Linked DNA regions of Homo sapiens: region 1 is reported to be linked to region 2. The links are microRNA targets in miRTarBase. Many come from high-throughput screens and were not tested one by one. Region 2 holds a microRNA gene; the other region holds the end of a gene's coding sequence.
What was found. The annotated mature microRNA hsa-miR-6778-3p reads UGCCUCCCUGACAUUCCACAG and lies in region 2 at 2,152-2,172, shown strand. An mRNA with a match to its seed (bases 2 to 7 or 8) in the 3' UTR can be bound and repressed. Matches are read on the target gene's strand: a 7mer-m8 pairs with bases 2 to 8, a 7mer-A1 pairs with bases 2 to 7 and ends in A, and an 8mer does both.

Region 1 (5,000 bases), not on the chromosome of region 2:
TAATCTGCAGGTCTTGCCTCAAAATCTGGTAAGCATCTCATCTGGAACACTTGGGCCTGGTTTCACAGTTGGAAAGGGAAAGATGAGGGACCTTAGGGGGCTGCAGATGGCATGGCCAGCAGCAGCAGCACTCACTGGGCTCCTTCTGCAGTGCACACACGTGTGTTTATGTTCATGTTCACGTTCGTGTTTGTTCTCAGGGCGGCAGCAGCAGCTGGATGCAGAGCGCCTGGACAGCTATGTGAACGCTGACCACGACCTGTACTGCAACACCCGCCGGTCGGTAGAAGCCCCAACTGAGAGGCCTGGTGAGCGGCGCCAGGCCGAGATGAAGCGTTTGTACGGGGACAGTGCTGCCAAGATCCAAGCCATGGAGGCCGCGGTGCAGCTGAGCTTTGACAAGCACTGTGACCGAAAGCAGCCCAAGTACTGGCCGGTCATCCCCCTGAAGTTCTGAGCTCAGGGCACAGGGTACCCAGCCTCTCCTTCTTCCTTTTGGGTACACGCTCTTTATCTCTCCTTCTGTACATTTCTTAGGGAAAGGGGACTTTGTACTGGGGTACAGGCATGTTCACCACAGTCCCAGTGGGCCTGTCACGGGGTGGATGTACTATGCCAGCCACTTGGAGGTCTGCAGGACATGTTCTGTTGCCAACATGATAAATTTTCTCCTGACATAAAATAATTTTGCATATACTATACTGGTTTTTTATGTTGTTGGTAACAGTTCAATTCATTAACGTTCTTGCCTAGAGATACTGCCTGGTGTTTTGCTTTTTTATCTTTTCTTGTCTTTAACCTGTCTGAACTACACAAATGCCTTTAAAAAACCAGATATCCTCTCTGACTCTAGCTCCATTAGCCCCCACTAAAAATGAGCCAAGTGTGTAGTGAGACAAATACCACTACCTGTAGTGGAGAGGGATGCATGTTCTATAAAGGGCCAGAGAGTGAATATCTTTGGCACTGCAAGCCACACGGTCAGTGTTGTGACTACTCAACCCTCCCTTTGTAGTGTGAAAGCAGCTGTAGACAGTAAGTAAACAAATGGGTGTGGCTGTGTTCTAATAAAACTTTATTTATAAAAACAGGCGGCCGGGCGCAATGGTTCATGCCTGTAATCCCAGCACTTTGGGAGGCCGAGGTGGGCAGATCACGAGGTCAGGAGATGGAGACCATCCTGGCCAACATGATGAAACCCGTCGCTACTAAAATACAAAAAATGAGCCGGGCATGGTGGTGTGTGCCTGTAATCCCAGCTACGTGGGAGACTGAGGCAGGGGAATTGCTTGAACCCAGGAGGCAGAGGTTGCAGTGAGCTGAGATCGCGCCACTGCACTCCAACCTAGAGAAAGAGCAAGACTCCGTCTCAAAACAAAAACAAAAACAGACTGCAGGCCAGATTTGGTCTACAGATGGTAGTTTGCCAACTGCACCTCTCATGGAATGAAAATCACCTGCCTGACATTTTTATTCTTGTTATCTCATTATGTCTACAGAGCTTAGATGTCATACAGAATTGAGAGCAAAGAACAATAATTCCGGCCCGGCGCGGTGGCTCATGCCTGTAATCCCAGCACTTTGGGAGGCTGAGGTGGGCAGATCACGAGATCAGGAGATCGAGACCATCCTGGCTAACACGGTGAAACCCCATCTCTACTAAAAATACAAAAAATTAGCCGGGCGTGGTGGCGGGCACCTGTAGTCCCAGCTACTTGGGAGGCTGAGGCAGGAGAATGGCGTGAACCCAGGAGGCGGAGCTTGCAGTGAGCCGAGCTCCAGCCTGGGCAACAGAGTGAGACTCCATCTCAAAAGAAAAAAAAAAAAGAACAATAATTCCCAAACCTGGTCACTGCTGCAGTCACCTCTGTTGCAGAAAACGCACAGTTGATTTCTTACTATATACAGCAAATATTGATTTGATAAAGGAATACATTTCTGAAAATGAAATCTAAAAGCTGATGGAGCAGGTCATTTATAAAAGCCAGCTGCCTTTTAAATAAGTTATTACAGTACATTGCCAGGGTGAGCCCATGTTGACCTGAGAAGATTAGCACATCCATCAAAGGCTGGTGAAAAGATTTAGTATTGACATGTTTCTCTCTAAGAACAGTTGGCTTCACATTCAGCCCCTGCCCTGAGACAAATGCATTATTTTCATCAGCCCTGGGTGCTTATTTTTCTAAGCTCTCATTTTATTACTGGAGTCACAATTTGTGTGTAGGTGTTGCCGACAAAAATGATAATTAACTTTCCCTTGAGGTGACACATAACTAAAATTTCAAATCTTTAGTATTTCTCCCTTTCATTTTAAATTCATATGCCTAACTATAAAATAACTGTGACTGAGATACAAGTACAAACCAAAGCCTGGAATTGCAGCAGGTGCTGAGGCATTTGAAAGTGAAATGTTTCTCTTCGCAAAGGACTCTTATACCCTCCCCTAAAGAAATCACCATGCCGGTCTCACCCCTACTGGCTTTGTTACCTAAGGCTTCACCTCTCAGTGCTTCTGGTTCCTTCCTTATCCTTAAAATGAGTGTTAATAATTCTCTCGTGGGGTCATTGTGCGGACCACATTGAGTAGTGCCTGTAAAACAGTGCTGGCTACACGGTAAATACTCAATAAATGTTGACACGTTTATTACCTGTCTTTAAAAATCACTGGGAAGTGCCAGTGGGAGTCTTGAGTATAAAATTTCTAAATACGGAGAAATGTTTCCCTGTCAGCTCTCCGAATGGATGCGCTGGCTTCTGGACACCTCATGCCAGCCCATCCTTCCTCCTGCTTGTCTCAGATAATTTGTGATACAAGGCACACGTGACTCGTTTGTTTGTTTATCCAACAAATATTTGAATTTCTTCCATCACAGTTAGTTAAACCATAGTCTCTTCCCTCAGGATTTTTTTTCTCCCTTTTTTTCTTCTAAATCCTACTTTTGCTTCTGTCTGTTGGTGACAGTCTGATGGCTATTCTCCCTGTGTCCCTGTGTATGTGAGAGTAGATGGGCATGCAGAGCTTATTAGATGTCTCTAGCTCAGGCCGGGAGCGGTGGCTCACACCTGTAATCCCAGCACTTTAGGAGGCCAAGGTGGGCGGATCGCCTGAAGTCAGGAGTTCGAGACCAGCCTGGCCAACATGGTGAAGCCCTGTCTTTACTAAAAATACAAAAATAAGCCAGGTGTGGTGGTGCACACCTATAGTCCCAGCTACTCGGGAGGCTGAGGCAGGAGAATTGCTTGAACCCAGGAGGCAGAGGTTGCAGTGAGCCGAGATTGCGCCATTGCACTCCAGCCTGGATGACAGAGTGAAAAAAAAAAAAAAAGTGTCCCTAGCTCTTTGGCCAGTCACAGAAGAATCTGTGGATGTCTTCACTGATAGGATCACATGGCCTTTTAACAAGGCCACCTTTGCCACCGAGGGGAACATGTGTTGGAGGCACCAATATCTGATGGAAAAAACAAACTTCTTTTTTCTCTACTCGCACTCAATACAACAGAGAGCACTTCTGACACCAGATGTCAGGGGGCTTTTCCCTACACATCAAGCAATTTCTCCAGGGGCCACCAACTGGGTGTCCTATAATTCATTTCTGACACTATCTATCTGGAGGTAGCATCAGATCCCACAAGTTAAAGGCCCAGTACCACAGGATTGCCCCCGACTTCAGATGCCAATCACAAGTAGTAGGTTGTCACGTATACTTCTGACTGAACAGCTATCAATTAGGGTTCCCACGACCTCCTCTTTGGGTTCAATTAATTTCCTAGGAAGGCTCACAGAACTCAGGCTCACACTTCTTGAGTTTACCTGCTTACTAAAGGATAGTACAAAAGATACAGATGAACAGTGAAGAGATGCATTGGGCAAGGTATGTGGAAAGGGGTGCAGAGTTTCTTTGTCTCTCTGAGCACGCAGCCCTTCAGGAACCTCCACATGTTCAGCAATCCAGAGGCTCTCCAAACCCAGTTCTTCTGGGGTTTTTATGAAGGCTTCATTACATAGTCATGATTGATTAAATCATTGGCCATTAGTGACCAACTCAACCATCAGCCCATCTCCCTTCCCTGGAGGTTAGGGGGTGGGCCTGAAAATTCCAACCTTCTAATCATGTGGTTGGTTCCCCTGGCAGCTGGCCCCATCCCGAAGCTGTCCAAGAGCCCACCAAGAGTCACCTCATTAGAACAAAAGACTCCCATCACCCAGGAAATTCCAAAGCATTTAGGAGCTCTGTGTCAGGAACCAGGGTCAAAGACCAAGTATTACAACAAAAGACTTTCCTAGTGCCTCTATCTACAAGAGTTTCAGGGGGTCTATGTCAGAGACCAAATATATATATTTTTTATTATCTCACAATATCACACAATGGGGGGCAGGCAGACCACTTACAAGCCTATTGCAGAAAAGGTGTTCAACCTCACTGGTAACCAGAGAACCACTAATTACAATAAGAGTGATATTCCATACCCTTCAGATAGGCAAATGTCTAAAAAGAATAAAAATGCTGGCCAGTCACGGTGGCTCATATCTGTAATCCCAGCACTTTGGGAGGCCAAGGCGGTTGGATTGCTTGAGGCCAGGAGTTCGAGACCAGCCTGGCCAATATGGTGAAACCCCGTCTCTACTAAAAATACAGGAAAAAAATTAGCCAGACATGGTGCCATGCACCTGTAGTCCCAGCTACTTGGGAGGCTGAAGCAGGAGAATCACTTGAACCCAGGAGGCAGAGGTTTCAGTGAGCTGAGGCCGTGTCAGCCTGGGCAACAGAGCGAGATGCTGTCTCACAAAAGAAAAAGAATAAAAATGCCAAGTGTGGCAAGGACGTAGAGAGATGAGAACTCACATTGCTATGGGAGTATAGGTTGGTCCACCCTATTGAAGGGCACGGTGGCATTTTTCTTGCAAAGTTAAAACAGGCACATATGACCCAGCAATCCTACTCTCAGGTATATGCCCAAGAGACACTCTTCCATGTGGGCACAAGGAGGTGCACAAGAGA
Region 2 (5,175 bases):
TGATTGTTTTATTTATTTATTTATTTATTCAATTTTAATTTTTTTTTTTTGAGACAGAGTCTCACTTTGTCGCCCAGGCTGGAGTGCAGTGGCACCATCTTGACTCACTGCAACCTCCGCCTCCTGGGTTCAAGTGATTCTCCTGCCTCAGCCTCCCGAATAGCTGGGATTACAGGCATACGCCACCACGCCTGGCTAATTTGTGAATGTTTAGTAGAGACGGGGTTTCACCATGTTGGCCAGGCTGGTCTCAAACTCCTGTCCTCAGGTGGTCCACCTGCCTCGGCCTCCCAAAGTGCTGGAACTGCAGGCATAAGCCACCACGCCCAGCAGTTCGATTGTTTTAGATTTCACATAGAAGTAAGATCACATGGCCAGGTGCGGTGGCTCACACCTATAATCTCAGCACTTTGGGAGGTCGAGGTAGGAGGCTCACTTGAGTCCAGGAGTTCGAGACCAGCCTGGGCAACATGGTGAAACCCCATCTCTACAAAAATATAAGAATTAGCCGGGTGTGGTGGCACTGCCTGTGGTCCCAGCTATTCAGCAGGCTGAGTGGGAGAATCGCTTGAGCCTGGGAGGTAGAGGTTGCAATGAGCCGAGATGGCACCACCGCACTCCAGCCTGGGTGACAGAGTGAGACTCTGTCTCAAAAAAGAAGTGAGATCATGCAGTATTTGTCTGTCTGAGCCTGGCGTATTTCACTTAGCATAAGGTCCTCCAAGTTCATCGGTGTTGTTGCAAATGACAGAATTTCTTTTTTCAGACTGATTATTATTACATTGTTTATATATATATGTGTCACATTTCCTTTGTCCATTCATCTGTTGATGGACATGGCTTTATTCCATAACTTGGCTATTGTGAATAGTGCTGCAGTGAACATGGGAGTGCACATGTCTCTTTGACATACTGATTTCAAGTTCTTAAGATATAGATTCACAAGTGGGATTGCTGAATATGGAATTGATTTGTGTGGGTGAGGCGGGCATCCAGATAACATTTTTGTCCAAATGGATGCCCAGTTGACCTAGTGCCATTGATTGAAAAGGTCATCCTCTCCCCACTGCACTGCAGCGTCACCACTGGCATGGATCCAATGACCTGTGTTGTGTGTGGTTCTGCTTCTGGTTAAGCCAGATGCTCTGCCCTTCCATGAATGCGTGCTGCCTTAATTACTATAATTTGTCAAGCATTTTGTGACACAAAATACACAACGCAATGATGTTTTGTGTAAAGGTTTGGTATGATTTTCCTTTTATGGTTTTTGTTATTTACATTTCATTTTCTATCTTTCTTGCTTTTATATACTTTTTGGCTTTTTTTTTTTTTTTTTTTCAGATGGAGTCTCGCTCTGTTGCCCAGGCTGGAGTGCTGGAGTGCAGTGGCACAATCTCGGCTCACTGCAAGCTCCACCTCCCGGGTTCACGCCATTCTCCTGCCTCAGCCTCCCAAGTAGCTGGGATTACAGGCGCCCGCCACCATATCTGGCTAATTTTTTGCATTTTTAGTAGAGACGGGGTTTCACCGTGTTAGCCAGGATGGTCTCGATCTCCTGACCTCATGATCTGCCCGTCTCAGCCTCCCAAAGTGCTGGGATTACAGGTGTGAGCCACCGCGCCCAGCCCCTACTTCTTGTTTTTCAATGTTGTATCCAGTGACCTTGCTAAATTTGCTTATTCTAACAGTTGGCCCCTAGCATCTTGATTTTCTAGGTATATTGTGTTGTCTGTGTGTAATGTCAGTTTTTAAATTTCTTCTTTCCTAATCGTTATGCCTTTTGTTTCTTTTTCTTGCCTCATTATACTTGGAATAGAAGTAGTATTAGCAGGCATTTTGGTCTTGTTCCTGAAGGTAACCATTTTGGTTTCCATTGTGTGGTCCCGTCACATTTGTTTCATTCTGCAGGTGCTTTTTGGTTCCTTCTCAGCAGGTAGTGCCCCAGCAGCAGGGCTCACTACAACCCTGGGACTCCTCAGGGACTCCTGGGTCTGTGAGCCATACTTGGTTGAGCAGGCTGAACACACCAGTATCCATCCTGTCTCACCCTCAAGTCCTCATCTAGGACATCATTCCTCTTGTCATGGTGGGTGGAGCCAGTTCAAGTGGGAGGACAGGAGGCAGGTGTGGTTGGAGGAAGCAGCCTGAACCTGCCTCCCTGACATTCCACAGGTGAACCCAGATACTGGCTACATCAACTATGACCAGCTGGAGGAGAACGCACGCCTCTTCCACCCGAAGCTGATCATCGCAGGTGATGCGCGGGGCGGAAAGTCACCTTGTTCACCAGTAGCCTGGTGCCTCTTACAGAATGAGGATGGAAAGATGTTCGCACCCTGTTGAGCCCACTGCTAGTTTCTGCCCTGGATAACTGAGTTTCTGGGGTCTACATATATTAGTTTCTTTCAGGATACAGATGTGTGTTTGCTGCTTTTTGTGCTATGTAGATTAAGATGTGAGACTGTTCTCAGAGAAGCATCTAGAAATGTCAGGCCCTGACTGCGCTGGCAATAGTAGTTGGGGCCATCTCAACCACCAAGACGTTGAAGAGTTAGAGTGGTTGCCTTTAGCACAGAGGTGCTTTTTGAGGGCATTCTCCATTTTTGCTCTGAGACTTTAAGGGAAGAAATCTCTGGGCTTTCAGATCTGCACATCTAGAGGCCACTGTGAAGCCAACTCAGCTGGCCGGTGGACATCTCTGATGCAGCTGTGTCACCTTTCCTGTCTCAGGAACCAGCTGCTACTCCCGAAACCTGGAATATGCCCGGCTACGGAAGATTGCAGATGAGAACGGGGCGTATCTCATGGCGGACATGGCTCACATCAGCGGGCTGGTGGCGGCTGGCGTGGTGCCCTCCCCATTTGAACACTGCCATGTGGTGACCACCACCACTCACAAGACCCTGCGAGGCTGCCGAGCTGGCATGATCTTCTACAGGAAAGGTGAGCTCCCGAATGTTGGGTACAGATGGGTACCATGGTTTACATTTCTCCTGTGGGGGTTCAGATTCAGTTGAGGGAGCTGGGAAAAACTCTGACCTGGGATCCTTGGAAAATATTAAGATCCCAGTCCCTTAAAGAGCTGCTTAGGAAGGAGCAGTGACAGGCTTTACAGAAAGGATTCCCGGCCAGGTGAGGTGGCTCGCGCCTGTAATCCCAGCACTTTGGGAGGCCGAAGCGGGCAGATCACGAGGTCAGGAGATCAAGACCATCCTGGCTAACACGGTGAAACCCCGTCTCTACTAAAAACACGAAAAATTAGCCGAGTGTGGTGGTGGGCACCTGTAGTCCCAGCTACTCAGGAGGCGAAGGCAGGAGAATGGCGTGAGCCTGGGAGGTGGAGCTTGCAGTGAGCTGAGATTGTGCCACTGTACTCCAGCCTGGGCGACAGAGCGAGATGCCGTCTCAAAAAAAAAAAAAGAAAGAAAGAAAGGAATCCCCAGAAGGAGACTGTCAGCCACAGCTCCTGCTTCACTTTTGTGCATCCAGGTCCTAGGAACATAGGAGGGGGATCAGCAACCACTATGTGTTAGGATGGCGCCGGTTGCTGAACTCGAGAGGCAGGTGTTTGAATGAAAGGAGGGTGCATGGCTGGCTGGGGGCCACTGGGAGGCCTCACAAGGCTGCATTATTCTGGTGAACTTACAGTGATCCATCATGTTTCTCAAAGAGAAAGACTCATAGTAGTCAAACTAGAAGACATGGATGTATAAACATTAATATCATTTTAGTGAAGGTTTTTCTTTCCATTACCTCATAACCTACCCCTAGGCACTCCCCTTATTTTCGAATTCCCATACCTGGGAAAGCCTGTTAGTGGTCAGGTCATCATTTAGCCTGTGGTGAGACCTGATGCGCCAACTTTGCATCAGCAGAGACACCAGCCCTCTGGTGACTACATTACTCTTTTTTTTTTTTTTTTTTTTTTTTTTTTTTAGTATTTATTGATCATTCTTGGGTGTTTCTCGTGGAGGGGGATTTGGCAGGGTCATAGGACAATAGTGGAGGGAAGGTCAGCAGATAAACAAGTGAACAAGGGTCTCTGGTTTTCCTAGGCAGAGGACCCTGCGGCTTTCCGCAGTGTTTGTGTCCCTGGGTACTTGAGATTAGGGAGTGGTGATGACTCTTAATGAGCATGCCGCCTTCAAGCATCTGTTTAACAAAGCACATCTTGCACCACCCTTAATCCATTTAACCCTGAGTGGACACAGCACATGTTTCAGAGAGCACGGGGTTGGGGGTAAGGTTATAGATTAACAGAAGAATTTTTCTTAGTACAGAACAAAATGGAATCTCCTATGTCTACTTCTTTCTACACAGACACAGCAACAATCTGATTTCTCTATCTTTTCCCCACATTTCCCCCTTTTCTATTCGACAAAACCGCCATCGTCATCATGGCCTGTTCTCAATGAGCTGTTGGGTACACCTCCCAGACGGGGTGGCGGCTGGGCAGAGGGGCTCCTCACTTCCCAGAAGGGGCGGCCGGGCAGAGGGGCTCCTCACTTCCCAGAAGGGGCGGCCGGGCAGAGGCGCCCCCCCACCTCCTGGAAGGGGTGACGGCCAGGCGGGGGCTGCCCCCCACCTCCCTCCCGGACGGGGCGGCTGGCTGGGCGGGGGCTGCCCCCAACCTGCCGGACAGGGCAGCTGCCGGGCAGAGATGCTCCTCACTTCCCAGACGGGGCGACTGCCAGGCGGAGGGGCTCCTCACTTCTCAGATGGGGCAGCCGGGCAGAGACCCTCCTCACCTCCCAGACGGGGTTGCAGCCGGGCAGAGGTGCTCCTCACATCCCAGACGGGGCGGCGGGGCAGAGGCGCTCCCCACATCTCAGATGATGGGCGGCCGGGCAGAGACGCTCCTCACTTCCTAGACGGGATGGCGGCCGGGAAGAGGCGCTCCTCACTTCCCAGACTGGGCAGCCAGGCAGAGGGGCTCCTCACATCCCAGATGATGAGCGGCCAGGCAGAGACGCTCCTCACTTCCCAGACGGGGTGGCGGCCAGGCAGAGGCTGCAATCTCGGCACTTTGGGAGGCCAAGGCAGGCGGCTGGGAGGTGGAGGTTGTAGCGAGCCGAGATCACACCACTGCACTCCAGCCTGGGCAACATTGAGCACTGAGTGAACGAGACTCCGTCTGCAATCCCGGCACCTCGGGAGGCCGAGGCTGGCAGATGA

Region 1: the mRNA of GEMIN8 is a reported target of hsa-miR-6778-3p. Seed matches in the 3' UTR shown: 7mer-m8 at 1,134-1,140, 7mer-A1 at 1,299-1,305, 7mer-m8 at 1,584-1,590 and 7mer-m8 at 1,718-1,724.

What each region holds. Positions count from the first base shown.
Region 1 is chrX:14,004,370-14,009,369 of GRCh38, reverse strand. GEMIN8 (gem nuclear organelle associated protein 8) reads left to right here. Exons shown (of 5, transcript NM_001042479.2): 5 at 201-2,644. The coding sequence ends at 457. Among named protein-coding and RNA genes, the nearest start is that of GEMIN8, 23 kb to the left of the region's middle.
Region 2 is chr17:18,337,811-18,342,985 of GRCh38, reverse strand. It overlaps MIR6778 (microRNA 6778), which reads left to right and starts at 2,100; the gene lies at 2,100-2,172. SHMT1 (serine hydroxymethyltransferase 1) reads left to right here. Exons shown (of 12, transcript NM_004169.5): 6 at 2,173-2,254; 7 at 2,731-2,943.